Regions from separate parts of the Homo sapiens genome. Here all the other regions are linked to region 3. Evidence: fine-mapped expression QTL. A gene starts in region 3. Each other region holds a variant in brackets. All regions are shown on one strand. Distances are from middle to middle. Region 1 has its middle 21 kb from the start of FHL2. Region 2 overlaps FHL2 (four and a half LIM domains 2). Region 3 holds the start of FHL2 (four and a half LIM domains 2).

Evidence for each region. PIP is the estimated chance that this variant, and not a neighbour inherited with it, causes the effect. A credible set is the group of variants that fine-mapping cannot tell apart.
Region 1: its variant is the best candidate, but not a certain one, in a credible set for the expression of FHL2 in whole blood (INTERVAL, PIP 0.51).
Region 2: its variant is the best candidate, but not a certain one, in a credible set for the expression of FHL2 in whole blood (TOPMed, PIP 0.74).

What each region holds. Positions count from the first base shown.
Region 1 is chr2:105,414,674-105,425,407 of GRCh38, forward strand. It overlaps a transcript of FHL2 not described here. Among named protein-coding and RNA genes, the nearest start is that of FHL2, 21 kb to the left of the region's middle. The variant G/A (reference allele first, on the strand shown) is at 6,505.
Region 2 is chr2:105,373,519-105,383,726 of GRCh38, forward strand. It overlaps FHL2 (four and a half LIM domains 2), which reads right to left. Exons shown (of 7, transcript NM_001318895.3): 4 at 41-215. It also overlaps a transcript of C2orf49 not described here. Among named protein-coding and RNA genes, the nearest start is that of FHL2, 20 kb to the right of the region's middle. RefSeq lists an enhancer at 377-656. The variant C/G (reference allele first, on the strand shown) is at 3,176.
Region 3 is chr2:105,393,731-105,404,464 of GRCh38, forward strand. It overlaps FHL2 (four and a half LIM domains 2), which reads right to left and starts at 5,321. Exons shown (of 7, transcript NM_001318895.3): 1 at 5,112-5,321; 2 at 2,917-2,967. RefSeq lists silencers at 5,055-5,274, 5,295-5,424 and an enhancer at 5,102-5,924.

The sequences.
Region 1 (10,734 bases), 21 kb after region 3:
TCTAGAGTAGCTGGGGTTACAGGCACACGCTACCATGTCCAGCTAATTTTTATATTTTTAGTAGTGATGGGGTTTTGCCATGTTGGCCAGGCTGGTCTCCAATTTCTGGCTTCAAGTGATCCACCCACCTTGGCCTCTCAAAGTGCTAAGATTACAAGTGTGAGCCACTGTGCCTGGCCAGATTTAAAGGATTTTAGGAGCTGTACATCAGGAAACTGAAAGAAGACCAAATATCTGTTTCACAATATCACCAGCTTCTTTACAATTCCTCAGTAACCTATGACTTACAATTTTCTCTAATACAACTGTAGTCTAAGTAATGTTGGCTTACATATCTTTTGATCCTTAAAGTTATATTAGTATATGTTTGTTGTACACAAACGCAGATGTATACAGATACTAGAACATTCTTTAAGGTAGCATAAGTTGGGAAACAATCTAAATGTTTATAGGTAGGGGCAGAGTCAAGTCATTCGTCCATACAATGGAGCAAGCGCTACACCGCTATAAATAGTGAGGCAAAATCTCACTCTCTGGGACAATCTCCAAGACAGGGTGTTAAGTGAAAGAGGAAAGTGCAAGTCATTGTGTGGAGTATCCTACCATTTGTAAGAAAAGGATGTGTGGCTATTATACATGTTTGGAATATCTGGAAGGATGCACAAGGAGTTGGCAATAGTAGTTGCTTCTGGGGAGAACTAAGGAAGAGAATGGAGGGAGGGGGAAAATTACTTTTAATTATTCTCTTTTTGTTGCTTCTGAATTTTGCACCGTGTGCATTGATTACCTGTTAATAACTAAAATAATATAAAGTAAATAAATAATCAGCATATCTTACCACAGCAAAGGTGGTTTAAATAATGTCTTTAAACAATTAAATTCAATAACACTTTTAAACAGAGATTGAAGGTGGCTTCACAATGGGCAGGGAAATAATATGTGACACAGTTTGCAAGAACGAAAACCGTGTCTGAAAATCACATTAAAATGTGTTGGGAAACAGCCTGAAGAAAAACTGTTCCTAAAATAGAACCAACAATAAATAAATAAACAAATGAAGTAAGCAATGCAAATTTCTTAAAAGCACCGGGATTCCTGTGTTTTTAAGTTATTTCTTTGTGGCCCTAACCCCAAGTTAAGTACCAGGGACTCCTTGGAACCGAATGGTACCCCATGGTGGGAAAATGGCCCATATGGTACAATTATCTAGATGATTTCAGCAAAAAATACGTCTTTGACTCAGTGTTTTATACAATAGGAATAGATGGGGAATATTAACAAGAATTGAAACTGTGTGTGGAACCATATTCAATCAATTTCAAGTTTAATTAAACCAGCTACTCTTAACCCCTGTTCTTAAAGAGTGCCTCAAAGAGTACAGCCCTATCTACTCTTTAATATTATTAAGAATCCCAAAGGGCTTTTGTTTATGTAGGTTATATCTATTATATTTACTGCATTAGAAAATAAAACTTAGAAGCTAAAAAATTAATTCATTTAAAATTAACATTAAATCCGTAACAGGTAACATAGAATGTTTTCATGAAAAATAATTACACTTTCCAAAACAAAACAACTAGTAAGAAGAGTGGTGTGGTTTTGAATTTTTGCAAATCTCTTTAACATTGAGCTTAATAGAAGACAGCTGGAAAGCTCAATGCTCATGTCTGCTTCTGCATTCGATCTGTGGAGTATGTGGTTTTGGTTGAAATTTATGAAGGAAATGCAACCTTATACAGAAATGTCGTTGGAAAAGAGAAATATCTTGATAGCCATCTCAGATCATCATCTCTCTCTATAAATGGATAGATTCTACACCAAAATTTGAAAAAGAGATGTTTCTTAACTACTGCTTAAAGATTGCAATGTGGAATCTGAAATCACATCAATACTTTTCATATTCTATTACATTAAAGCCCATTTGGTCTATCTTAAGCTTTAAACAGATCTTTAACCTACACATTGTTTTGTTAGATTTAGAAAATATTGCTTCTATAGATCTTCCAAATGCTGATACATTTCATTATACAATATTAACAAATTACAGTAATTGATATCACCATCCATCTAATCAGGAAAGTTTTTACACACTGGGAAGCTGCCACACTCACAGTTTCCCAAAATGCTAATTTTCACCTGAAAACTCAAATTTTATCCTTGAAAACAAAAACAAATACTGTCAGTTGTTTCCCTTAGAATGACAGGCTACTCTGCATTTTTGGGAAAATATCTACTGCCAAAATCTAAGTATGCTTTGTCTGTCAGTTGTTCTTCCAAGTGAAAATGGAAGAAACATCTTGTTGAACTCACGACTTGGGCCACTGCACAACTTCCTTTCCTCAAGACAGTCACAGTTCTTTGATATGAGCAGAAGTGCTTCATGCATCTTCCCTTTCATCACTCTGAATACTAAAAAGATGTGTGTTGCGGCCGGGCGCGGTGGCTCACGCCGGTAATCCCAGCACTTTGGGAGGCCAAGGTGGGTGGATCAAGAGGTCAGGAGACTGAGACCATCCTGGCTAACACGGTGAAACCCCATCTCTACTAAAAATACAAAAATTAGCTGGGCATGGTGGCACGTGCCTGTAATCCCAGCTACTCGGGAGGCTGAGGCAGGAGAATCGCTTGAACCCAGGAGGCAGAGGTTGCAGTGAGCCAAGATCTTGCCACTGAACTCCAGCCTGGCAACAGAGCTAGACTCCATCTCAAAAAAGAAAAAAAAAATGTGTTGCTGGGCACGGTGGCTCACGCCTGTAATCCCAGCAATTCGGGAGACTGAGGCGGGCAGATTGTCTGAGCTCAGAGTTCGCGATCAGCCTGGGCAACATGGTGAAACTCAGTCTCTACTAAAATACAGAAAATTAGCCAGGTGTGGCAGCGTGTGCCTGTAGTCCCAGCTACTCAGGAGGCTGAGGCAGAAGAACTGCTTGAACCTGGGAGGTGGAGGTTGCAGTGAGTCAAGATTGTGTCACTGCACTCCAGCCTGGGCAATACAGCGAGACTCCATCTCCAAAAAAAAAAAAAAAAAAAAGAAAGAAAGAATGAAAAAAAGAGGATGTGTGTGTTTAAGGGTCCAGATTTAATAACATTAATAATTGTTACTGTTGTTTTGTCAAGGTCATTCTGGAATGCAGCTGGGCTTTTCTTTTTCCCCCTACTGCTTGGTGATGAAGAATATCATGATTACTAGTTTGGTTTGGAGCCACCACCTTGATTCCTGCTAAGGCACTAGGAGTCTTCCCACCACAACTTTTGTACCAGCATAAATGTCAACACAGTGAAAAGATGAGTCATATCTTAATAGTATCAAAAAAATAGCTTTAACCACAAAAACTCCTTGAAAAGGACTCAGGGGTATAGGGACCACACATTGAGAACCACAGAATTAAAACACTTTAGGCTGGGGAAGTCATTATATTTTGTAATAGGACTGGAGGTAGTGTATTTTCCACCATGTGGGTAAATGGTGGAGATTCAGACACAGTCTGTATAGCTAGTGTTTCATATCTGTCCTTATTTTTGACTCTGCGAATGGCCACCCAAGGCTGCCAAGGGCTCATCATTGAGATAGTGCTGGGCTTGTTAAGCTGGATATCCTAACTCCTGGGCCTTCTGGTTTGAAAGATGTGGGGACCAGGCAGATAAGCACCAGGGCAAGCCACCTGGGCCACAGGGAAACACTCTCCCCAACAGAAACCACTTATTTTCCTCCTATTGAAAATAAGCCTCAGAGACCCAGGTGGTCAAACAACATCAACAAAAAAAAAACAAAAAACCCATTTTAATCTCATAAGTAGGTCAGAGTTGCACATTTCATGAGAACTGGGTCCAAAAGACCAGGTACCACTAATTATCCAGATATTTCAGTTGAGCTGATTTAGTGAGCAGTTTCCGTTCTGCACTTTACATTTTTATGAATACAACTGTGGATAAAGTATGCGCAGACATAGAGTATTCTATTTCTTCTTCAAGGATATATCTCTCTATAAAGTGTATTTATTCATACAGTAGCGCCCTCCTCCCGCTCCCCTTATCTGCAGTTTCTCTTTCCACGCTTTCAGTTACTCATGGTCCACTGTGGGGCTGAAAATAGATTAAGTACAGTACAGTACAATATTTTGACAGAGAGAGGCCACATTCACATACCTTTTATTACAGCATATTGTTATAATTGTTCTATTTTATTATTATTTATTGTTAATCTCTTACGGTGACTAGTTTATAAGTTAAAATTTATCATATGTATGTATACACAGGAAAAAACATAGTATATGCAGGGTTTGGGACTATCCACAGTTTCAGGCATGCACTGCAAGTCTTGGAACTTATCCCCACCAGATAAGGGGAGACTGGTGTGTAATATTTGTATACAAGTATTTTCTTTAGTATATGTCTGTCCACAAAGTAGGCTTTCCTATACCCATACATCAGAAAGACAGACATGTAGATCTATAGAAGGCCACTGGAGAATCAAAATATGCCAAACCAAAATATGTCACACCAGAATATGCCACTTTGGCATAAGGATTTTTAAAAAATTTTTTTATTTTCATAGGTTTTTCGGAACTGGTGGTGTTTGGTTACGTAAGTAAGTTCTTTAGTGGTGATTTGTGAAATTTGGGTGCACCCGTCACCCAAGCAGTAGACACTGCACCCAATTTGTAGTCTTTTATCCCTCACCCCCTTCCCACCCTTTCTCCAAGAGTCCCCAAAGTCTATTGCATCATTTGTATAAGGATTGTTTTGAGGTGAAGGCAATTAAGAAGCAGCAAATGCAGAAAAAGGAGGACATAAATTTCCCTTTGTGAAGGTGTTTCTCCTCCCATCTTCCATACCAAGAGGAGACCAACTCTTGTCACTGGAAACAGAAAGTCAGCACCAAGACAGGTCTGCACAAACAAACCTCACCAATATCACCCTTATCTTTCATTAGGTTCCCCTATATGTGTACTCTCCCAGTCCTAGAAGCCCAGGTTGCTTTTTGCTTGTTTTGTTACTTCTCTGCAAATTTATCACCCTTTGTTAAAATGGTATATAAACTCCTGGGTCTAACAGCCTCTTTGGTTCTTCACTTCTTTTCTATGAATGTCCCTTCACATAAAAATTAAAATAATAACATAAAATAAGATTTGTCTGTCTTTTCTCCTGATGGTCTCACTTTTGCCAGTGTAATTAACAGACCCCAGCTAAGGAACAGAAGAAGGTTGAGGAAAAGTTTTATTTTCCTCCCCTATACTACATAGTCCAGTATGACTGAACATGCATTGTCATTAAGGGAAAGTGTTCAGTTGAGGGTGGGAGGGGATGCATTGGCCAAGGTCTCAAGAGGAGAAGTGACTGCTTGGATTCAGTTCTTCATTTGCTCAAAGATAAGCCACCCAATGCCCCATTGTGTTAGTCTGCCAGGGCTGTCATCACAAAGTACCACACACTGGATGGCTTAAACAACAGAAATTTATTGTCTCCAAGTTTTGGAAGCTGGAAGTCCAAGATCAAGGTGTCAGCAGGGTTGGTCCCTTCTGAGGGCTGTGAGGGAGCATTTGCTCCATGCCTCTCCCTAGCTGCTGGTGGTTTGCTGGCAATCTTTGGCATCCCTTGGCTTGTAGACTCACTTCCCTGATCTCTGTCTTCACGTGGACATAGTATCTCCCTGTGTGTGCGTCTGCCCAAATGTCCCCCTAATATCCCCTTTTACAAGGGCACCACTCATATTGGATTAGGGATACCCTAATGACCTCCTCTTAACTAATTACTCGGTAACAACCCCATTTCCGAATAAGGCCATAGAGTTATTAGGAGTTACGGCTTCAGCATATCAATTTGGGGGAGAGACACTCAACCCATAACACCTTCACTAATAATAGTAGCAAATTATTCATAACTAATAGTAACATGAGGAAGAATCTAACAGATGTGGGGCAGAGAGAGGGATGGCGAGGAGGAACTAGTGCAGATATCCCTAACCTTTTTGGCACCAGGGACCCATTTTGTGGAAGACAATTTTTCCATGAATTGGGAGGTGGGGGGCAGAGGGTTTCAGGATGAAACTGTTCCAACTCAGATAATCAGGCATTAGATTCTCACAAGGGGCATGCAACCTAGATCCCTCACATGTGCAGCTCACATTAGGGTTCATGCTCCTGTAAGTATCTAACGCCTCCACTGATCTGACAGGAGGTGGAGCTCAGTGGGGAATGCTTCTCGCCTGCTGCTCACCTCCTGCTGTGTGGCTGGGTTCCTAACAGGCCATGAACCAAGTACCGGTCTATGGCCTGGGGACTGGGGACCCCTGAACTAGTGGGACAAGTTTTAGGAGAAAACGGGGCTCCATCCACACCATGAGAATGGGGCACTGGGGTTGTACAGAGCCAGTGGTGGCCCAGTGTCCCTGTCCTATACTGGATCCAGCTCATGAGACAGATGCAGTTTATGGTCAGACTCCATGTGGTCCAGTGCTCCCTTGATAAAGAAGGTAATCCAATGGGAAGAAAGTGAACTGTCCCT[G/A]GTCCCATCGTCACTGGGTTCTCTCTGGCTTGTAAGGACAGCCAGTTTCACATGGAATGTCTGGGACAGAGTCCACACAAATTTGATTTGGTGTCAGTGATCTGGGGCTTTGTGGCAATGTTCTGCCCTGCTTGAGGTTACAGGCCAAAGTTCAAAGACCAGCAACCCAAAAGCCTGGTCACTGGAGTGTAGATGCTGGGTGGAGTATTCACAAGCACGCTACAGAAGGCCCAATGCCTGAAGTTAAGACCATAAGCTCAACTCTCCTGATCAAAAAGACAAACACTATTCTCTTAACACAAATGCTGTCTCTAGGACAAATGCTATCAGGATGATGAAAATCAATTTTCTGCCCATTTTTTGTTGTTGTTGTTGTTGTGACAGATCTCTGGCAACAAAATGCTCCAGATGAAAGAAATCAAAATTAAATACTGTCTGCAGTTTAACACTGCCACCAAATTCCATCTTTAGGTTGATTTTTGTGTCCTCTTTATCAAAAGGCTGCTTGATTGAGAAAGTGTCTAGCTCAGTTATACTATGGCTTGCATTGACCAAGAGAGGTATCCCAGCCTCATGACACTGATATCGTAACTGTCAAATGGAGGCACTTCTGTGATGCAGAGGGCACAGTTCCATGCATGAGCTTGCAATGCAGTCTCTGCCATCAGGGACTCAACATTCTAGGATTTAGTTTTCCAGATCTGTTTCTTTGATTTAATGGAAAAGATGTTTCTATTACCCACCATGCTAGTTTTATATTAAGACCAGAGTTCACTGGTACATCTTTTTGTTCCCATCAGCTTTTTGCCCCTCCTGGGGTCCTGTTGCGTGCATTGGCAGCGTAGCTCAGAGGAGTTGCCCTAGGAAAGAATCACGGTGGAGGGCAGTCCTTCCCCACATACATGCAAGTCCTCCAACACCATGCATGTCCAGCAGCAATCTTGGCCGCGTTGTGGACCAGAAAGGAAAAGCCATAGTAAGAAACAGCTGTTTGGCTTGAAGATGTGTTGGTTTGCTTATGTTTGTAACTTGTTTGCTTTTATGCTTTGGGTTTTCAAGATGCTGGTGTTATTGGTGAGAATGGCAAGAACTCCCATGCCTTGTGAACCACAACCAGCTCCTGGCATTCTCAAGTTGGTGGCAAGATGCATATGGAGGTGCATGTCATGTGCATGGGAATTGCAGGGGCCCTATGTGGATGGATCCTTGGTGCTTCTCAGATAAGACAAAACTACTTAGGAAGCAAAACTGTGATGGGAATAGTGGATCACATATAAGAGAAATATTTTTTTTATTTATAGTTTCCTCTTGGTTTAATTTACTTTTTCATTATAGGATTATAGCTCTAGATAAGACATGATCTACAAACTAAACCACAAGCCACTTAGAGACAACAGGACCATGAAAATCAATTTTCCGCTAATTTGTTGTTGTTGTTATTGTTGTGACAGATGTGATTCATCTCTGGCAAAAAAAAAAAAAAAAAAATGCTCCAGGTGAGAGAAATCAAAATTAAATACTGTCTGGAGTTTAATACTGCCACGAGATTGCATCTTTAGGTTGATTTTTTTGTCCTGTTTATTTTATCAATTGATTACTTGATTGAGAAAAGGATTGTCTGTATCAGTTATACTACAGGTTGCATTGTACAAGATACCAAAATCATTGCAGAACCACTGTTTTTCGTTCTGACAGTTTTACTCAATAGACACTGTACCTCTCAGATAACTAGGAAACGAGAGTAAAGTCTTCCGTCAATAATGTCAGAACACTAATTTACTCTCCCACTTCTTTCCTTTTCCTGCAGCTCAGACGGCATGGGAACCCATTACAACTCCCTCATAGTGGAAAGCAAGCTGAGGATGCTTGCATTGGGCCTGACTCAGGAAGTGGTATCAAGCGTCAGGTCCCTGGGGCAGCTCTTCCATTCCTCTCTCTGATGTTTGCCCCCAGAGGAATGAAGATTCTTCTAGATTTTAGTACAGAATGGAGGCTGTCAGTGATACCCATATGTTAGAAAAAGCCAACAGAGCAATAATGTCTCCAAAAAATGAAACATGAAGCTTTTAGAATGATTGGAAATTACAGTTCGATTTTGAATTATTTGCAAGCCACTTGAAGATTTCATAAACCTATTGCATCAACTCTAACAATAGTCCTTTACTGGTATAATTATCTGCATTTTGCAGGAGTAGAGATTGAGGTACAAACAGAGGACACATTTTGCTTGCCTGAGGCTTCGATGAAACTTCTGACAATATCAGGGGACATATTTATACTTCTAACAGTATTTTTAGCTATTTGATAGACAACAGTTGCTTCTCTTTTCAAAGATCACAGCCATTGAGGAATCCACCATATTTCTGTAGCAGGAAGAATGTTTATCTCTGTGTCTTGTCTTTCTGGTTAAAGGTATTTACTTCCATCACACTACCTGACTTCAAACTATATTACAAGGCTACAGTAACAAAAACAGCATGGTACTGGTACCAAAACAGATATATAGACCAGTGGAACATAACAGAGGCCTCAGAAACAACACCACACATCTACAACCATCTGATCTTTGACAAACCTGACAAACAACAGAAATAGGGAAAGGATTCCCAATTATATAAATGGTGTTGGGAAAACTGGCTAGCCATATGCAGAAAGCTGAAACTGGATCCCTTCCTTACACCTTGTACAAAAATTGACTCAAGATGGGTTAAAGACTTAAACATAAGACCTGAAACCATAAAAACCCTAGAAGAAAACCTAGGCAATACCATTCAGGACATAGGCATGGGCAAAGACTTCATGACTAAAACACCAAAAGCAATGGCAACAAAAGCCCAAATAGACAAATGGGATCTAATTAAACTAAAGAGCTTCTGAACAGTAAAATCAACTATCATCAGAGTTGAACAGGCAACCTACAGAATGGGAGAAAATTTTTGCAATCTAAGCCATCTGACAAAGGGCTAATATCCAGAATCTACAAGAACTTAAACAAATTTACAAGAAAAAACAAACAACCCCATCAAAAAGTGGGCAAAGGATATGAACAGACGCTTCTCAAAAGAAGACATTTATGCAGCCAACAGACACATGAAAAAATGCTCATCATCACTGGCCATCAGAGAAACGCAAATCAAAACCACAACGAGATACCATCTCATGCCAGTTAGAATGCTGATCATTAAAAAGTCAGGAAACAACAGATGCTGGAGAGGATGTGGAGAAATAGGAGCACTTTTACATTGTTGGTGGGAGTGTAAATTAGTTCAACCATTGTGGAAGACAGTGTGGCTATTCCTCAAGGATCTAGAACTAGAATTACCATTTCACCCAGCAATCCCATTACTGGGTATATACCCAAAGGATTATAAATCATTCTGCTATAAAGATACATGCACACATATGTTTATTGTGGCACTGTTCACAATAGCAAAGACTTGGAACCAACCCAAATGCCCATCAATGATAGACTGGGTAAAGAAAAAGTGGCACATATACACCATGGAATACTATGCAGCCATAAAAAGGATAAGTTCATGTCCTTTGCAGGGAAATGGATGAAGCTGGAACATTCTCAGCAAGCTAACACAGGAACAGAAAACCAAACACCACATGTTCTCACTCATAAGTGGGAGTTGAACAATGAGAACACATGGACACACGGAGGGGAACATCACACACCAGGACCTGTCAGGGAGTGGGGGCCTGGGAGAGGGATAGCATTAGGAGAAATACCTAATGTAGATGATGGATTGATGGTTGCAGCAAACCACCGTGGCACATGTGTACCTATGTAACAAACCTGCACATTCCGTACATGTACCCCAGAACTTAAAGTATATATATATTGTAGGGAAAAGAAAGAGAGATCAGACTGTCACTGTGTCTATGTAGAAAGGGAAGACATAAGAGACTCCATTTTGAAAAAGACCTGTACTTTAAACAATTGCTTTGCTGAGATGTTGTTAATTTGTAGCTTTGCCCCAGCCACTTTGCCTCAGCCACTTTGACCCAACTTGGAGCTCACAAAAACATGTGTTGTATAAAATCAAGGTTTTAAGGGACCTAGGGCTGTGCAGGACGTGCCTTGTTAACAAAATATTTACAAGCAGTATACTTGGTAAAGGTCATTGCCATTCTCTAGTCTCAATAAACCAGGGGCACAATGCACTGCAGAAAGCCGCAGGGAACTCTGCCCTTGAAAGCAGGGTATTGTCCAAGGTTTCTCCC
Region 2 (10,208 bases), 20 kb before region 3:
GCTAGACTGGCTCACGCATGAGAAAGGAGTGCCTCCTGACCTGGCATGATGGTCTTCTTGCATTCCTGGCACTTGGATGAGTACTCGTTGGAATAGCAGTCTGTACAGAGCAGCTGGTCCTCCTTGGCAGCAAAGGGCTTGTCCACCAGTGAGTTTCTGCACTGCGAGCAGTGGAAACAGGCTTCATGCCAGTGCCGGTCCTTGTAAGACAAGTCCTGTGGGGCCAGACCACACAAGACAGTCAGAGGCAGGACAGGAGGGCTTGGACCCACAGCATAGGGGCCCCTTGCGAATCTGCAGGGCAAACAAGGAAAGAAGTTGGGCCGAGGCACCCTGGCGCACCCACATTCATGCCCCAGGACCACCTAACTGCTGAAATCAATTAAGACTAGGCTGCTTTTCTCTTGCTGCATTTTAGAGCAACAGGTTAGACAGATGTGCATGTATGCACATGTCTGTGTGTGAGAGATGCTTCTAAAAAACAAAGGGATTTCCCTTATGTATTGCCTGCAAGAAAGAGAAACAGAAAACATGAACACCTATCAATTCGTCTCACACCACATCCGGTGACAGAGAAACAGACTGCAGGACATCCTTGGCTGAGGGAGCCCTGCCCAACTCAGATCACTGTGGTCACCGGCATGGCAGAGAGGCTCTGGGTGTCGGGATGTTCACAGGAGGCCCAAGGACTGTTTGGTGGGAGACGGTCAGGAGAGACTGTGTGTGTGGGTGCTACCTCTGTGGGTGGCCGTGAGCTGGGGGAGGAAGGGAATTTCAGGCAGAGAAAGAGCACAGACACAGAAGATCTGGGGACGGGGGGCATGTCAGATTGGAGGGACCACAGGCCAGGGGCGAGGTGGGAGGGCCCCCCGGCCTGGCTGGACTGGAAGATATGGCTGCCTTTTTGCCTTTTATGTCTGTGTAGAGATTCCATTGATCCTGAAGGCAGTGGACAGCTGCTTTTCAACAGGAGAGTGAAGTGCTCAGACTGGGGGACGGGTAAGGATGTGGGAGTGGAGGGGCGTGAGGGTGGGAGAAGTGAGACAAAAACTGAGCACACATGAGAGAGGCCCTGAGAAGACAGACGTGTGCTTTTGAGTAAAAGATGAGGGAGAGAAAGGAGCCCCGCAGAAAACTCGACTCCACACTTGGCTTCATCTTGCCTGAGGAATAAGAGAACCCTCCATATTTGCCTTTTAAAAATGACATACGGCATTTTTAAAGTGCCAACACAAAATTAAAATAACAATCTCTTTATGCCCAGCTTTATCTTAGAAAGGATATGTTTCTATTGCTGTCTTTGTGTTCCCAGCTCTGACCCCAAATCATCATCCATTTATACATGAGGCAGAAACAGAGTATTAGGCTCTGCACGGTTTCCTGGGCAGGCTTCCAGTTGGTAGGTATCCTGAACAGGGCACAGGAGGGCTGTTCACGCGATGGCCCTGAAGAAGAGCCTGCCCACGATGTCTCTGTTACTGAAACCGAAGTCGAAGCTGGAGTTATGCTGAATGTAGGATGTGAAGACATGGATCTTGGCCTTGATTAGAAAGTCCTAAAACACCAGCTAACTCGGAACCAAAACTAGAACAAACAGTTCTCTTTTGCTGAAGTATGTGTGTGTGTGTGTGTGTGTGTGTGCGCGTGCGTGTGCACATGTGTGCATGTATGTGTGTTTTCCCGGAACCTGGAACCAAACTAGTTATTTGATTTAGTGATCTCTTTGCGCATTTTGTTTTAGTTCAAGGAATTTTAAAAATGTGAACGCTGAGACACTTTGAAGACAGTCATGACTATGGCCTTTGTGAGGGGTGACCTCTTGTGCTATCCCTGTTGGAAGTTTGCTTCCTAGAACATCTGGGAATAGGATTATTGCTGACGCAAGACGATAAAGAATGAAGGAGAGGTCAGGAGTTCAAGACAAGCCTGGCCAACATGGCGAAACCCTATCTCCACTAAAAATACAAACATTAGCCGGGCGTGGTGGTGCATGCCTTTAGTCCCAGCTACTTGGGAAGCTGAGGCAGGAGAATCGCTTGAACCTGGGAGGTGGAGGTTGCACAGCCTTGGTGACAGAAGGAGACTCAGTCTCAAAACAAAAGGAATGAAGGTGAGAGGAGCATAGAGTGCTCTCAAAGCTGGACTAAATGCCCTTGTTTCTGCGGAATTCATTCTCACCTGAGCCCAGCACCTCTGGGTATTGTGGGTCCCCTGGGGTAGGCACTGCCTGTCAGGGGGACTCGGGGGCAGGTTGCTGAAATGCCCAAGCCCTCTTCATCCTTGAGAACCCAAACTGGGTATGCACTGGGAGTTGGGGGCAGAGGGCTAACCTGTCTTTTGTATTTTTAGCTTAAAGTATTTTCAGAAATCTGAGGGGAACATCACCTGTGCTTTATTGGTTATTTTGACAAGTGAAATAGAGGACAAACTGCTTTGATTTGAGTTGATGTCTACACATGTGAACTCATGAGAAACAGCAAAGCCCACAATCCACATGGACATCATCATCGTTCGGGAACAGGCATGGTCTCCATTCTTTCCATGCACACGCCCCGGCTTCAAAAAGACATCTGAAACACTAGTGATGACCATCATTACCCCATCTGTGAGCTCCAGGCACGGCACAGCCCTGCAAGGTAAATGTTATTACTGAAGGTCAGAGAAGTTCCGTAACTTGCCCAGTCACATACCTGGCACGGAGCTAAGCCAAGCTTCGAGCTCAAGTCCTCCTGATGCGAAAGTTATTTCCACTGAACCAGCCCAGGCAAAATCCTGGTCGGGTCTGTGTTACTCTTTGCTTTCAAAACAGATAGCCTTGAGGAGATGTGTGTGTGTGTTCATTTAAAAAAATCCAGAAACGACCAAACTCTGGCAACTTTCTAGAACATATTTTGTACCTAAATGAATGTGGCTCAGTATTGCCTTTGTTTAGACTTTGAATAAAATTGAACAAATCATTAGAAGCCCTATCCACCCAAAACAGTAATCTGCCTAATTTAAGAAGAGATGGAGATTTTATTCATGTTATCACTGTTAGAATGCTGATTGTGGAAGAAATGCATTAAGAATAAATTTTGTGTGGAAAACACCATGGCTGATATTAAAAGTAGAATTACCATATGATTCAGCAATTGTACTTTTGGATATATACCCAAAAGAATTAAAAGTAAGGTCT[C/G]GAAGATATATTTGTACATCCACGTTCATTGAAGAATTATTCACCATAGCCAAAAGGTGGGAGCAAGCCAGATGTCTATCAATAGGTGAAGGGGTAAACAAAATGTGGTCTGTGCATACAATGGAATTTTATTCAGCCTTAGAAAGGAAAGGAATTCTGACTCATGCTACAGCATGGATGAATCTTGAGGACATGACGTTAAGTGAAACGACAAATCGGTCACAAAAGGACAAATACTGCATGATCTCACACATGTGAGATACTTAGGGAAGTCACATTCATGGAGACAGAAAGTAGAAGAGTGGTTGCCAGGGGCTGGGATGAGAGGGGAATGGGAGTGAGAATGTGTTCTGTAACCCATTCATGCCTGAGGTTGCAATTTTTTGAATTTCTGCAATCAGACCTTGGCGATGATCTTGAGCAGTAAGATATACATAACTCCCACATGCTTAGCATTCCACTAATGGAATACTAGGCGTAAATGGGCTTGATGGGGGTAGTATTTCAGATTTGCAAGAAGCAAAAGCTCTGGGGATTGGTTGCACAGCCATCTGAATGCACTTACTACTGAACAGTACTCTTAACAGTGGTTAAGAAGGTAAGTGTGATGTTCTGTGTATTTTACCATAATTAAAAGAATAAAAAAGTAAGTTTTGGCCAGGCGAGGTGGCTCACGCCTGTAATCCCAGCACTTTGGGAGGCCGAGGCAGGCGGATCACCTGAGGTCATGAGTTCGAGACCAGCCTGGCCAACATGGTTAAACCCCATCTCTACTAAAAATACAAAAATTAGCCAGGCGTGGTGGTGCATGCCTGTAATCCCAGCTACTCAGGAGGCTGAGGCAGGAGAATCTTGAACCCGGGAGGTGGAGGGTGGAGGTTGCAGTGAGCCAAGATCGCACCATTGCACTCCAGCCTGGGCAACAAGAGTGAAACTGTCTCCAAAAGAAAAAAAAGTAAGTTTTGATTGTTATGTAGCAGGTAAAAAACACCGTTTCAGAAGTTACCTCTGTCCCCCTGTGCAGGCGAGCCACCTCATAGAGGACTGCTCGTTTGGGGAAAAGCTGCAGAATGTTTTCCATGACCCAAGAGTCACTGTCTGGCTGGGACAAGAGACCTGAAGGAGTAGGCGCCAGGGAGAGGGGAGGAGATCCTTGGCCTCTCTCTGGGAAGATAGTTGCTTTTTACATGGTGGCTGCCCTGCCCAGGGAGGAGGCATTACGCCCAGAGGGGTGGCAAGTTATCAGTGACAAGAGAGGGAAGAGAAATACAATTTCTAGAAAATTTGCCTTTTGGGACTGACCTTCAAGAAAAACTGAGAGAGAAATCTCCAAGGTCAACAGGAAAGCAAAGCCACTAGATGTCACCACAGCCAGTGCTCCGGTCATTAAGTCCCCAGATGGAGGAAAGAGCACATCAGCATGCCTGCACAGACATGGAAAAGCTGGCTAAGACATGCACATGGGTCCAAGGCACTGCAGAATTCCATTTTTCCTACAGTTAATATTTATGGCACAAAAATGCAATAGCTACAGTTTAAGACTGATTCATTGACACGTGACACTTGAAACTGTCCCTCTAAATGTGGATATTATCCACATGTTACTGGACTAAGCATCCATGCAAGACTTGGAGACCTTCTGCAGGCGCAGCCTGTCCCCCCACACCCTGCTCTATCGGATCCCACCTCGCAAGGTGAAGGCCGCATTCTCTCAGGACAACCTGGTCTGCTATATCCCCTGGGAACCATTTCGCCTTGGCTCCTGCCAGATGCTGCCCTTTCCCTTCAGGCTGGTGTAGAGTGGACACCTGAAAGTGCTCCCCATCCCATTCGGGTTGGGGCATGCAGAGATCCAGGTTTTGTCCTAAGAAACAAAAGACAGAGTGCCTTCCACAAAGTGCCTTTGCCTGCCCAGGGCTGCGTTATCTCGGCATCATTCCCTGGGGCCATCTGCACTCAGCTCCGCAACGTTTCTCTCAGCCTACCTTTATGACTGCACACACAAGCATTCCTGAGTGAATATGCGTGCAGCAGTTCCTAATTCTAAAACCTTCTAAAGGAAACTCTTTTCCCTGAAGATAAATATTAACCTATGCTCACGTTCTTAAGTTTTGTGGTGTACAATAACTAAAAATACTCTGTAAACAAGCTTGCATCATTGTTGTTGGTGGGTCCTCAGTGGGAACAGAACTGGCCCACCTCCCTGCTGCAGTACAGGGTGGTGGGCTTCCTGGGCCAGAAATGCCTGAATGCCTGCTGCATGCAAGCAGGATGGGAGAGCATGAGGTCCCACAGTCCACATCTCTTGTATCACTGTGGGTCAAGCGCCCGCCCCTCTGGGATCCCAGGAGCACGTGATTAAATTGCTTGGTTATTTCACCCTAGGGGTTCAATTCAAGGGCCCAAATGCCAGATTGACTAAACTTAAATCCTGGCTCTGCCCTATGCCACGTACATCACCATTGGGAAGTAATTGAACCTCTCTTGCCAGATTTCTGACCTGTACAGCAGGAATAATGGACCCACTACTGGCTGTAACAAGCATGTATAACAGTTGCTGGTATGTATTACAATTGCTCAATGGATGTTAGTATAAGTCATTATTTAGACCACAGCTAATAATGAGAAGAGTTGCCTCAATGTGTCACTTGCTGAACCTACATTTCCTTATGAAGACAGTCCTATCAATGAGAATATCTGCCACCTTAAAGCTCCACGTTGGTAACTCTACCACTCTACTTTTGTAGGTGCTTTTTCATTTTAAATCTAAAATTCTTTTTCTTAATTCTTCATACCTATTTTGAGCCATACGATAACTCTATGAAATAAAGTTTTATTCTTATAGATGAGCAGATTCAATGTAACGACACCAAAAAGTGTTTTCTCCAACATTCCCACTGCCCTTCCACCTGAAATGATCCGACAAAACTAAACTGTGCTCCTGTTTTTTACCTGGCACGTCAGCCCCTTTGCAGATTGACCCCAACTCGCTTTCCAACCTGACCCTCTGCTCTGGTCCCCTCTTCCTCATCTCCATGCCTTTGACCATACTCTGTCCCTGGCCTTTGAATGCCCTTTCCCTTCTCCCCAAAAGGCCAAATCCCACTTGGCTGCAAGTCCCAGCTGAAATCTCATCTGTTCTGCAAAGCTTCCTTGGCCAGGGCAATGCTGGCTTCAGGGAAGCCATGTGCCACGCCGGCGACCTAGTTTGTATGTCTCCTTCCAAATCCTATTTGGAAACTCGTAGGTAACTAATTATGCCACGGGGTTTCCCTGTCACTCTCTGAATGGGGCGCCCAGTTTGTGTTGTCTTTAGAAGTCTGAGTCAAGTTAATAAATTCATGTCACTGCTTCCTCCTGGACTCGCTTCTTAAGAAAGTTCACAATAAGGAGGAAGTGAGGAAAGACTTTATGATAAGAGGAAGGTAACTCAATACTGCCAGGTTTGATTGTTTTAGAGATCTTGGCCAACATGGTATTCTCTGAGTCTCAGCAGGAGGGAAGATTTTAGCCACACGATTCCCTAGAGCTTAGAGGTAGACTAGAAAATGCCACCAAAAGGCCTAGAAGCGAGATTGTCATTGATTAGACCCGGGTGCCTGAGCCTGTGCTTCCTATCACACTCTGAATCTTTACCTGTGAAGACCTAGTGCCAAGTGACCCTTTTCTTTTCTTCTATCTATCTGTTCTGTCTGTCTATCTATCATCTATCTGTTTAGAGACAGGGGTCTTGCTATATTGCCCAGGCTGGTCTCAAACTCTTGGCCTTAAGTGATCCTCCTGCCTCAGCCTCCCAAAGTGCTGGAATTACAGGCATGAGCCACCACGCCCGGCTCAAGTGACTCTTTCCAAACAGAAAAGCTCCAAACCGATTTTTAGTTTCAGTTATTAGCACCATGCCGGTAGCTTAATTTTGCTATTTCATTAGTACTCCATTGTGAACAGCAAACATGAGTGTAACAGAGATAGCACTTCGATGCTGAGAGGAACAGGGTAAGAAATATGGACACCTTGACAGACTTGCTCAAGAACTTTAAGATGGAAATATCCGGTTTTAAATTCCTCTAGAGAGAAATTGAAAACAAAAAGAAAGAAAAAAAAAGTCTTTTATACTTCCCAGAAAAAAATACCAAGGCTAATCTTGTGCTCACAGAAATGTCATACATTGCAGTAAAATGTTGATAAACATGTACGATTAGGCCCACACACTTCCTTTCTGGTTTTGTATTTTTCCATTGCAGAAACATTCCTAACATGGGCTGTGCCTGTTGCTTGGCTCCGAATGTGTCCTTTTTGAGACTTTAGCTGAGCTTTAGTGGCAAGTGGCCTGGAGGGAGCCCTGGACCCCTCAGTTAATGGAAGGTGGCTCTGGGTGGCAGGGTCACCCAGACTGAAACGTCTGGCTCTCATCCTCCCTCCTTCGCACCCCATTCCACCAGGGCTGGCACCAACCATTCTTCAGATCCATACGATTTCACTTCAGACATGGATTCTCATGTCATTCATGCTCAGCGTTATGAAAAGATATTTTCTGCTTGAGATCATCAGGTTTCCAACTGTACATTCTTTCAAATCCTTACAAATAAAGATGCAGAAAAATGGACAACAGCAGAAATGACAGCACTGTGTTGGCATGTCACAGGTGCTCCCTAGACGTTAACTCACTCAATTACCCCGACAGTCCCGTGAGCTAGGAACCCCAGTGTATAGACATGGAAACGGAGGCTTATAGGTGGCAGGACTTGTCCCCTTCGCGCAGCTTGTCAAAGGTGGAGCCAGGGAGATTTGGTTCCGGGGTCCAGCCTCGGTGCATGCGAGGTCACTGCTGAGCGCTGTGCACCTCTGCTGCTATGTCTTGTGGCTGAACTTTTGGTTTTATGCACTGACAGGCCAAGTTCGTGCACTGACAGGCCCTTCTCATGAAATCCATCCAGACAGCTTTGCTTCTGATCCTAGGACCCTGCTTGATTAAATTCCCTTCACAGACAGATTTTTGTCTTTTAGGAGGAAATCCAAATAAATACGCGTTTTCAGTGCTCGTTACAAACTCTGTGGACAAATTCTACACGGAAGAAGATCCAAGAAGGTAATTTGCTCATTGAGAACTTAAAAACCACCCCAACAAATAAAAAAGCACCAGGTTGGCAGGCTGGACCCTGAGAATGTGACTGGAGTAGGTGCTCTTCCCAGAAAAGGGTCCAGAAAGACCAGCGAGGGAGGCCTGTGTTACACCGAGGACAGAAGGGTGGGTTTTTCAAACCTGACCTTACACCTTTCACTAGGCTTGGTCAGAAACCTTCCAAAATATACTAGGGGCATCTAGATTTAACCTGTATGTGTGAAAACCTTCGTCTCCTATTTCAGAGCCCTGCCAGGTTGCTTTCTGCCAAAATATCACTGAACATTTCTGTCCATTACCAAACATTAACTGAGACTTTTACAGCCAATTTGATCATCACTTCAATGTTTCCTATTAGCTACAAAAGCTGGAAAGAGAGTTTGTGAAACAACTTGAGCCTCAATTCTGCAATGTAATCATCACCATCTAAAGGGGCCCATGAGAAGAGTAGGGGCCTCTGACTGAAGGTCACTTGATTGAGGCCAGGTGGTCACCATCTCTTACTCATAAGGACTGACCACATCTGGCCCGAGAGTCACATAGACAGGGTCCTGCCCGAGGCTGCAGGTAGCAGGTGGCATCACATGCTAGGTGAGGACCCTCCGGGTCTGGGCTCAAATTGTACCTCGGATACTTCCTAATCCCTTTAACCCTTGGCAAGATCCTCATCCTCTCTAGGCCTCAGCGGCTACTCCATAAAATGGAATGAAAAAAGTTCCTACCTATAGGGTGTTAGGAGAAATTTAGATCATGCAGTTTAGGCATTTACAAGTGCCTGGAACAAGTCATCAGGCAATACACAGTGGTTTCAAAGACTACCACTAGAAACTAAACCCTGAATGCTAGTTTCTGATCTGCAGATCTTTTGTTCTTGTTTATTATTTTTTTTTTCTCTTTGTAGCACCCTCCAAGCACATGGGTGGGTATGGTGGCCAGTCCAATTTCATGGCATTGCTTGCAGACCCATGGAACATTCAAAGTCTAGGTTACGTGTGTCGCCCAGGGCTTAAAATCACCAATTTGTTAAATGCACAGTATTAGCAGCTGTCTCTGGAGTTATTGGCCAGCCTATTTTTTATTTTTATTTTTTTAAGATGGAGTCTTGCTCTGTCACCCAGGCTGGAGTACAGTGGCGCAATCTTGGCTCACTGCAACCTCTACCTTCCAGGTTCAAATGATTCTCCTGCCTCAGCCTCCCAAGTAGCTGGGATTACAGGTGCACGCCACCACACCCAGCTTATTTTTGTATTTTTAGTAGAGACGGGGTTTCGCCATGTTGGCCAGGCTGGTCTCCAGCTCCTGGCCTCAAGTGTTCCACCTGCCTCGGCCTCCCAAAGTGCTGGAATTACAGGCGTGGGCCACTGTGCCCAGCCCTATTTTTTCTTTAGTTGGTTGAATTTTTGAAGCCCAGAACGTAGGCAGATCCCCCAAAAACTCTGTAATCAGTCTACGAAAATATTTTGTTAATGCTAACAGGTATCCAAGAAAAGGTTCAGGAAGCATGTAATGTCAGAGGATCATAAAATTGTATTAGCATTGTCTATTCTCCACTATTACACTGGCCATACAAATCAATAATCTTTACCCTTTGAGATCACAGCATTTTCCCAGAGTAACTTAATAGAAATAAAGATTACAATTCAGTGGCTACATAGAGAGGATGTTCAAACTATATAACAGGCTCTGAAGTCTTGCCTGTCTCATTTAAGTAGGTCAGGACTCTCAAAATTAGCCTAATTCCCATAGGCATGCCAACATTTAAAACTCACACACATGAACATGTCCTTTAGAGGGAAGTAGCTGAGGCCTGTGGTGGCTGTGCTATTTTAAGAGAAGAGATTGGCCACCAGACCTAAGAGCACAGTTCCTCTATCAGGTATCTCCCCGCCTGCCAGGATTGTGGGCTTTACTTCC
Region 3 (10,734 bases):
TATGTGAACAATCCACTCTGCATAGCAAACCCAACATGTAATGTGGTTTGGCATATGACATCATGAGCTTCCATCGCTGCCCTCGTCCCTCCTTCCAGATAAGCTGCTGCTTCCGCAGCGGATATAACTCTTCTTATTGTGTTTGGACTCCAATCCCATGTGAACACACAGCTGCACAGTCCAGGATGCAGCCTGGCCAGGTCAAGAAGCAAAAAGCCAGCTGGGAGTCGTGCCCACTTTGGGAAGAACGCACAGATCCCCAACACGGGCTCCAGGTGTCAGCAGAAGGCCCTGATGTTCTACAGACATGTGATGCCTATAATCAAAGATCCTCCATTCAAAGGCACGGGACTCTCACACCTGGAAATGTGCTCAGAGAATACCCCGCACCATTTTATTTTCCTACGGATGGGAGTATCTACACACAAAAACCGCTCACCCCCAACACTCTTCATTTGTCTAGCTAAACGGGTTGTTTTAAACAGAAATTCTGATAAAACGGAGAGGGCCATCATGTCAAGGAAAGTTGCTGTTTTATAAACTAGAATAATGGATCAAGCCTTGGAGTCCCTAAAGAGAGAGGATCTCTTGAGCCCAAGAGTTCGAGGCTGCAGTGAGCTGTAGTGCTGCCACTATACTCCAGCCTGGACCACAGTGTAAGACCCGGTCTCTAAAAAAAAAAAAAAATTTATATCAGTTGGATATGGTGATGTGTGCCTACAGTCCTAGCTACCTGGGAGACTGAGGCAGGAGGACTGCTTGAGCCCAGGGGTTTGAGGCTTTAGTGAGCTATGATGGCACCTGTGAAAAGCTACTGCACTCCAGCCTGAGCAACAGAATGAGACCCTGGGAAAAAAAAAAGAAAAGAAGGAAAGAAAGAAAGAAAGAGAAAAAAGAAAGAAAGAAAAAAAGTATCTAGCATCCACTTGAAATCTATTTTTAAATTGTTGGATTTTAAACAATCTTAGTTTGTAAGGTATAAAATTGACTATGCTTACCACTGTATAATATATTTACAGATTAATTTAATAAGCCTTTACTAAATGCATGTACAGACAGGTGTCAGAGGTGTATTATAGTTTACATAAACTGGTAACTTCCAACTTAAAAAAAATAAATAAACATCTTCATCTCTGGTGGTTCTGCATGAGGCAATGTTTGAATAAGGTAAACTGCTGTCTTCTGAATTATCTTTTGAATATTGAATACTAAAAATAAAGGGAAAACAATAAATATCAAATTTCTGATCTGAAGTCCATGACTACAAGAGGAGTTACACTTGTTTTGATGTCGTTCAGCCTTTTGAACCCAGCCGACAAGAATGTGTTGAGTAACCACTGTTTTCCATGTGCTACGTGAGGCACTGGGAAGCTGAGATAAAACACACAGTCTATGAAGGAGTTCCAGTCTAGTTCTAGCTCCAAATAATTTAAATCACCTTTAAGATCCCATCTTGTCATTTAATCTCAAAACACATCAATTGCAGCCATGCAGGACAACCATAGCTGCACACGCTAGAATGGCGGGTGGCCTCGGGTCCGTCAATCACACCAGTGTGGGGACCAAGGGAGACTCCATCCTGCATGCTATGGCTCTACCATGCCTTCCCTGAGTGAGTTACGAACACTTCTACACCTACAAAACGAAAACCACCCACTCTTCTTCATGGCAGGGGTCTCCTCTCACCTCCCAAGTGCGGCTCACTGTTCACTCTCCCAGCTATCTGAGGTGCCTATGACCCCCACCCCCATGCTGGCCTTTCTCTTGGCATCCAGCAGCTTCCATGAATGACTGGCCACCTCCTTCTCACTGCAGTCCTGCCACTCTGTGGGGTTTCTCTGGCGCACTGCAACAGGACTCTGTCCCGAGAGGCTTGCACAGTTCCTTCTGCTTCCTTCATTGACTGCCTGCTTCTTAGTGACTCCAAAAGTTGTATTAACCCAAGCAGACAGGTCTATTTCCTTGTTGACTGACAAGCTCCATATTTACATACTGCAAGGACATTCTGGCATTAATTCTGTTCACCCATGAAAACAGGGCAGCTGCTTCTGCCACAGACATCCCACATCTCACTCAAGACCATATGACGGGAGGATCTTGAAGCCGCAGACAGAATCAGGCTAGTAAAGGCGTGGGCCACCGAAGGCTGAGGATGAGTGTGAAGTCTAAGTTCACACCAGGCAAGACACCACCCACGAGCACTGGGATGGACCTGGGAGACCAGACGCTGCTCCAGACCCCTCGTGACATCCCCATGCAGAGAGCATGTTTTACAGCAAGAGGAAAGCCAAGACTCCCAGGAGCAAAGTAGTGATCAAATCTTAAAAAAAGGGAGAATGACAGTTGGTGGGGAGACTTTTTAAATAGATGTTACCAGAGAGCTGTAATAGTCAGGGTTTTCTAGAAAAATAGAACCAACAAGAGATGTACATAGAGAGATTTATCGCAATGATTTAGCTCACACAATTACGAAGGTGAAAAAGTCCCAAGACCTGCAGTCAGTAGGCTGGAGACCCAGGAGAGCCGATGGTGCAAATTGCAGTCTGAAAAGAGGAGACTCTATAGACCCAAGAAGAGCCGATGTTTCAGTGTGAGTCCAAAGGCGGAAAGGACCAATGTCCCAGCTCAAGCAGTCCGGCAGGGGGGCTTCCCTCTTACTCAGTTTTTTTGTTCTATTCAGGCCTTCAACTGTTTGGACAAGGCCCACTCACATTATGGAGAGCAGCCTGCTTTACTCAGTCTACCCATTCATATGTCAATCTCATCCAAAAACACCCTCCCAGACACACCCAGAACATATGACTGAATGTTTGGGCACCGCATGGCCCAGTCAAGTTGACACATGAAAGTAACCATCACAGTAGCTAAAACTGAAATCCACAATTTAGGATAACAGAGGAAATTCACTTGACTCACCCCAAAGTCAAAATGCCAGCCTAGTCTCCAGGAAGACACAGTTCTCAGCCACTAGAGAAAGCACACGTGTTTTGTTTCAGATGGTCATCTTGAGGAAGCGAACTCAGTATAATGCAACTTGAGATGGACACTTAATAAATGTGGCTTTGATCAAATTCTCATAATAAAACCGCACAGAAGAACCCAATGTCTAATGTTTCCATTCACCCAAGCTCAAGGAACTTTGTACCTCAGGGCATCTGAGTCAGAGAGCCGCTTAGCGACTCAGGCCCGGTGCTGACAAAGGAGGCTGCCTGAGTCACTGAGGCTGAGTAACTGGCCCTCGGCACAGGACAGGAGTAAACTACTCCTGATATCTAGTCTGTTTTTTTTTTTTTTTTTTTTTGGCAATATTCTATTGGGCGTTTTTGACTGCAATTTAAATATCTTTCAGTACTGGAAATGGTTTAACACGCAATCTTGGGTCAAAGTATGCATCATAAGGCCTCATAGAAATATTCAAATGTTAAAAAAAATAAATAAATATTCAAATGTTCCTCCCGTGGTGCGTTTAGTGGTTAGAACTCAGGTTCTCCAGTTAAGCTGCCTGGGGTCAGATCTCAGGGCTACCATTTACAGCCCGGGAAACCCTGAGTTAAAGTTACTTTGATCTCTGTTTTCAGTGTCTTTACCTGTAAAAATGAGGCTATCAAATATGTATACACTGTCTATGATGTCCAGGCTTCTTAACAACCCTAACAAAAAGACAACATCATTGTCCCTGTTTCCCAGTGGAGAAAACCGAGACACTACGAGATTAAGTGACTTGGCCCAGGCTGCACAGGTTGAGGGACCCGGATGTAAATTTAGGCAGCCTACATGCAGTCCCCGGCATCCCCTAGCCTACTGCATCTGCCTGTGGCTATTTGTGAGACGGTGAGCTAAAATGAGACAGAACCTATGTGCCCAGAACAGTTTCTGGTCTGTAGTAAGCCCATCATTAGCCTTCATCGACATGTTATGGTGTAAACGCATTTTAAACCATGGCAGGCTAATAAACACCGTGGAAACACAATTCTGTGTATTAACTGATGATCTTCTAAACTGGGGGGTGATCTAAATCCAGTAACACTTGACAAAATTTTATATAAATGCACAATGAAATGTTCTTTGAGTTTGGTTTTATTAAAGTTTAATTGATAGACTAGGAATTCCTGTACTTCTAAGACTTGATGCAAATGGTTTTTGTTTTTTTGTTTTTTGTTTTTTTTTGTCTAAAACATCTTCAGGATAGTGCAAAACCTCTTTTCTTTAATATATTATTATAAAACACTCATTAGTAGAGTCAGCACCAAAAATGTGAGATGTATTGGGAGTTGTGTTTTGAAGACAGTTCTCCTGATTCTAAACCCAAATTGTGATTTATTACCTTCCAAAATATGTGGAAGGGAGTGCGGGCCTTAAGTTCAGTGATGTCTAAGTACACTGCTGCTTGCAAGCCAGCTACACATTTCAGCTAACCGGATTAGCCTACTTCCAGTTAAAACCCGACTGAGGATATGAAAATAAATATGACTGATTCATTTAAAATCAGAAAAACACTCAATATTTTCTTCCCTCTATTTCTGGTATGCTAAGATATCACACGAGTGCGACTTAAGAAAAACTTAGAATCTTTTCATTTAAAATAAGCCATTTTTGTTTTAACCGAATGGTTCAGTTATTAAATGTCTACCTGAGTCAAGGAGCGAGGTCACACTGCAAACTCCACTTATTTCTACTAAAGGGAAATGGCCCGGACTCCCCCGCGCAGACCACCGTGCCAGGACAGCCCGCTCGGGAGTCGGGCCTGGAAGCAGGCGGACAGCGTCACCTCCCCGCAGCCGCCGGCTGGGACCCGCGGCCAGCCTTTACCCAGGCTCGCCCGGTCCCTGCCCGCATGGCGGTGCCCCACCTGGTGAGGACGCGGGCTGCAGTCCTCCCTCTGGGGATGAGTCGGTGGGCTCCTCTGAGCTCCAGCGCCCCCAGGGTCTAGACCCCTCCCATTGCTCCGCTCCCCTCTCCCCGTGGTCTCCCCACCCCCAACCCCCAGGGTTCGGCTCTCCTCTCCCGGGTCTACCCCACAGCTCAACTCCTTTCTCCCGGCTTCTCCCCGCACGGTTCGGGTCCCCTCTCCCAGTGGTCTTCCCGGACCCACAGCTCTGCTCTCCTCTCACCAGTCTCCCCAACTCCGGCTCTGCTCCCCTCTCCTTGGGTCTCGCACCGGATTCGGCCCCCACTTCCGAGCCCTGGTGGCTAAGCCCCTCGGCCTCCCTCCGGGGCGCAGGGGGTTGGAGGTACTCACGGCACCGCAGCGGGCCGGGGACTCCCGGACGGGGCTGGAGGGCGCGGGCGGCTGGTGGCTGCGGCTCCGCTGCCGGCCGAGTGGAGCGCTGCGCAGCTCCCGCCCTCGAGAAACCCCGCCGTGTCATTTGACCATATAAGGAGATGCACGCCTCGGCTCGCTGGCACCGGGCGTGGGGCGCGGGGGGCGGGCGCCCCCAGGCCTCGCGGTTGCCGTGCCCCCGCCCCGGGCTGCGGCGGTCCCGGCCCGTACCCTTTGTTTGCCAGGGCTCCTTTCTTCGTGCCCTCCGGGTCTTGGGAGCACAGTAGTTATCGGGAGCGTCGCCTCCGGCGTGGGCTCTCGGGCGCGAGTTTCGGACGAGGCCTGGGCGCGGTGGCAGGGGTCTGCCCACGCCGGGATCTCTGCCTGGTCCCAGGAGCGGGAGACTGGAGAAGCCCCAGGACGTGCCGGGGGAGGCGGAGGGAGGAGGGGGTCACTTCTCAGGAGGCATGTGCCTGGGATATATTTGCAAGGTGGACGTTTTTCCTTCTTACCCTGCAGATGCTTCTTTACGAAATGAACACCACAGATGACCATAAAGAATCCTTCGTTCCACTACGGAGGGGACTAAAGGAAGGTCCTATCCCCACCTCTCCCTCTCGGGGCCAGAAGACTAGTTAGACATCTTGGATTCCCCTCCAGGGCGGGAAAACCAAAGTGAGCTGGGAGCGTGCCTCCCACATTCCAAGCCCGGGCCCTCTGCGTGACGCTGACGCTGGGTAGGGACAGATGGCACTGTTCAGCATTGTCGCAGGGAGAGCACAGGTTGAGCCCATCCCTGGGAGAGGGTGCGTCGTGATGGAAACATTTGCTCCTGAGCAGGTAACCGGTCCACTTGCAGAAACCGGTGGACGATGAGTAGGTGGACCACAAAGGCGTCCTCGGCACTTTGGGGGCAGGTGTATTATTTTTAACATTCGGGGCAGCTCATAGGAATACATCCTCCAGAGAAGGCGGGAAGAACTCCGTGATTGCTTTCTTTTAATTGATACTCTCCGTCTGGTAGGCCTCATGGGTCTCCATCATGGAATCACAGAACTTGAGAATAAAGGGGCTTCATCACCTTAGCTTCCACTCGGTGAGCACTAGCTCTACCTGGTATCTCATTTGATCCACACTCCTTTAAGGTAAAGATTTTTACCAGATTTACGGTGAGGAAAGTTCAGCTCAGATTTGCTCCAGGCCACGTGAACGGTAACTGTGCCAGCTGAGATTTGAACTGGGATGTGGTAGATGGCAAAGCCATGTAAGTATATTACGGGATCAGAAATGCCTCTCATCCCTCAGTCACTCAGGTGACTCCAGAGGACTGAGACTTGCCATAAGCCCAGCCAGAACTAGATGTGCGGAATACAGCCCTCCCCCGACCCCACCCCACTGTGTCCCTGAAACAGGACGCTTTCCTGAAGAACCTGAGTTAAGGCCACCCTACCTGAATTTCCACTAAGTGTCAAGACAGGCTAGTATTTTGAAATTCAGAGCAAAGTTTGTGTAGAAAAGGCTCCCAGCCCCTGACAGCTACCTAGATGTGTTGTTGATATCGTTACAAATTAGGAAATGGTCTCCTAGTTCTCAAATGGTGAGTCTTAAGCTTCAGTTTGTAAAAACAAGCCCTAAAATGATGAAACATTAATTCTGCATTTATCTTCTTTCTGATTCCTTTTGTCTTATATTTTAATTTTTTTTTTTTTTTTAGCTTTCTGACTTACGGGTGTAATCCATTTAGCTTTGCTTTTTTACTGATAGAGTTATTTAGTTCTGTTATTTTTCTTCTAATAACTGCTTTAGCTGTGTCACATAGGTTCAGCTATGTTGTGTTTTATTATTAAGAAATTCTGCAATTTAATTTTGTGTTTAATTTTTGACCTAATGGGTAGCAGAACATTTTAAATGACCCTGTGGTCATTCGATAGGGTCAGTAAAATCCGGACTCTGGAAACAAACATACCCAGTTTCTACAACAACGATGCACAAAGAAAAACAAGAGAGATGGAGACAGAACCAAGAGATTAAAAAAAGACTTAGCCAACTGCCATGTATGGATCTTATTGGATTCTTTTTTTTTTTTTTTTTTGGATCTTATTGGATTCTAATCAAAGAATAAACTAGTAGAAAATCAATTTTTATGAGACAACCTTGGAAAATATGACACTGACAGGATATTTTCTAGTATTAATGAACAATTTATGTTAGGGGTGATAATGTGATTACACACACACATATATTTTTCTTTTCTTAAGTCCTTGCTTTTCAAGAACAGTGCCAAAATATTTCCTAGTGAAATAACATTATGCCTGGAGTTGTTTCAAAATAATTTGGGGTGGGGAAATGGATAGGGCCTATATATATACGAAATACTATCAGCCATGGATTGTGGATAATCGCTGAAGCTTGATGATGGATATGCAGCAGTTCATCTTACTAGTCTGTCTCCTTTTGTAATGCTTGAAAAATTCCATAATGAAAACATTTTTAAATTACAGATGAACATACCATTTTCTCTTTACCCAGCATTTCCCTTTATAGGAAATTATCTTGTAGATATACTTGCTCCTGTGTAAAACGATAGACACACAAGAGTAGTCATTGTAGAATTGTTTGTAATAGAAAAATACTGGGCCATGTTATGTGTTCGTCAACAAGGGCTTAGTTAAATACAGTATGGTGCATTTTAGAATTATTTACATATGCGGCTGTTAAAATGAACGAGGTAACTATATTTACTGATTTGGCATGATCTCCAAGATAAATCAACTGAGAAAAATAAAAGTAGAGAACACTTTGTAGGTAGAAACCAACCATTTGTGTTCATGAGCAAAGAAAGGACGGGGGAAGACAATGTATATTTATAAGCGGTTGCTTCTGGGGAGATCTGAGTGGCTAGGGGTCATGGGGTGGAAAGGAGATTAATTTTTACTGTACACATTTTTATTTCTTGTAAATTTTGAGCTATGTTAATGTACTCATTCAAAAACTAAATATATATATACACGAATATATACATATATACGTATATATACACGAATATATATATACGTATATATACGTATGTATGTACATATACATGTATATATGTGTATATATACGTGTATATATACACGTATATATACATATATACATATACACATATACACACATATACACATGTATGTATATGTATATATGTATCTGTATGTATATATGTATATATATGTGTATATATGTATATATATGTGTGTATATATATATGTGTGTGTGTGTATATATATATGTATTTGAGATGGAGTCTTGCTCTGTTGCCCATGCTGGAGTACAGTGGCACTGTCTTGGCTCACTGAAACCTCTGCCTCCCAGGTGCAAGCGATTCTCCTGCCTCAGCCTCCTGAGTAGCTGGGACTACAGGCATGTGCCACCATACCCGGCTAATTTTTTATAATTTTAGTAGACACGAGGTTTCATCATGTTAGCCAGGATGGTCTTGATCTCCTGATCTTGTGATCCACCCACTTGGCCTCCCAAAGTGCTGAAATTACAGGCGTGGGCGACCATGCCTGGCCCAAAAACTAAATATATTTTAAAAATAAAAGCAACAGACTCCTTTAAGGAAAATAGGAAACAAATTTGTTAAACTGATATTAATAGTAAGTCAAAGGAGGATGGCAAGAAATTGAGGAGGGGAATGCAATTTCTGGGTTTAATGACATATGCTTTCATGAGCAATTCCATCGAAGGACAAAGTATTAAAAACAAATTTTCATGAGACAATCTAAGAAAATATGTTTTGAAAAGTTCCATCCATCTTGTACATCATTATATTCCTAGGACCTAATTAATTATAGAGCATGGCACATAGTATGTGCTTAATAAATATGTGTATTGAATAAGTGACAGATCACAGAATTGTTTGTGACAAGTCTTTCACTATAGAAAGCGTAATGCTGTCTATGGCAGCATAGCTTGATCTTTGAAGTCAAGCCAGGATTTGAATCTCTGTTCTATCTATGACTACTATGATCTCCAGTAACTACAAAACTTCCCTAACCCTCAGTTTGCTAGTTTGTAAAATGGGCTAATAACATATAGTCTGTGAAATTGTGGCGAAGGTCTTTTGAGATGCACATAAACCACTTAGAACTATTAACACATTACTTGGCATGAAGTAGGCCCTTTGTAAAGTCCTCTGTTTTATTCAATGGCAAAGGGGAAATTAATCCAGAATAAGAAGGAAATGGACTGAACTCCCACCAGAAGAAGAATTAAGGTTCAGATCCTGTTCAGATCCTGTTTCTTCTTGAGAGAAAACCTCTCTGCTATGGATAAAAGGCTAGTTCATGGAAGAAAATAAAAACAAAAAGTACTATTTCCTGGGGAAAGGATCAACGGTGACTGTGATCAGTTATTCAAGTTCTTCTTTTGTTTATTCCAATTATCCTGACATTCCTTCTTGAGACAACACTGCCCATAACGTTTTCCCGTCTCTCCTGTAGGTGGGCTTCAGGGAGAGGCACAGCTAGGAAGGGAGGAAAGAGAGGAAAAGACTTCCTGCGGCTAGCAGGTCTCAAAGCCTTGTCCCAGAGTGCAGCAGGATCCCCTGCAAACCTGTTAGAAGTGCACATTCTCAGGCCAGCTCCTGCTTTAACACGCCCTCCAGGTGATTCTGATGACTAAAGGTGATTTGAAGTAAAATAAATACCACTTAGGGCTTCCAACTCTGGACTCGGTAATTTACCAGAAACCTACGAAATGTCAGTTTAGGGCGTGGGGGAGGGACAGGGAAATAGAGATAGACTAAACATAGACTAGACTCAGGAACTCTAAAATCCAGTTGGAAGTATTACTTCCTCTGTCAGTTACTTCACTCAGGGAAGCAGGAGGTAGAAGTTTGAGCCAGGAGGTAGAAGTTTCAGCCAGTGGGTCTGAGCTGTACAAATGCTGAAATTTCATTCTCTGGGAGAGGCCAAAGAAAGGCAGGGCTTCTAGGCGTGTGCTCGCAACTGCCACCCTGTGGTGGGGTCGTGGGGGGGAGGCTGGTGGGCTAGACCCATCTGTGCAGGGGCCAACAGTAGCCTCCTACCCGGATGGGGGCTACCCCAGGGGGATTAGGATGAGCTCACCATTACCAGGTAGAAAGTGAACACAGGAAAACATGAGCTGGAGGTCAGACCGCCCTATGTTCGTTACCCTAACTGACCACTGCCATCAAGATTGTTAAGCATTTTGTCACCGTTAAAGGATTTCACACAAGCTGTTCCTCCCACTCAAACCTTGGCCAGGAAACTGGTGGATGATTTGCCCTTGATTCAGAGGCAATCATTCTTAATTGCCTCACATGGTTGGAAGGTGAGTAAGTGTCTAAGATCATAAATGCTGGCGGGAAGGGGTCAGGAGTGATCAAACCAGCACCCCTCCTGGCAGTGGGGTCAGGAGGCAAGTCCCTGCATGCCTTCCCATGACACAGTACCAGATCCCAGGGTGGT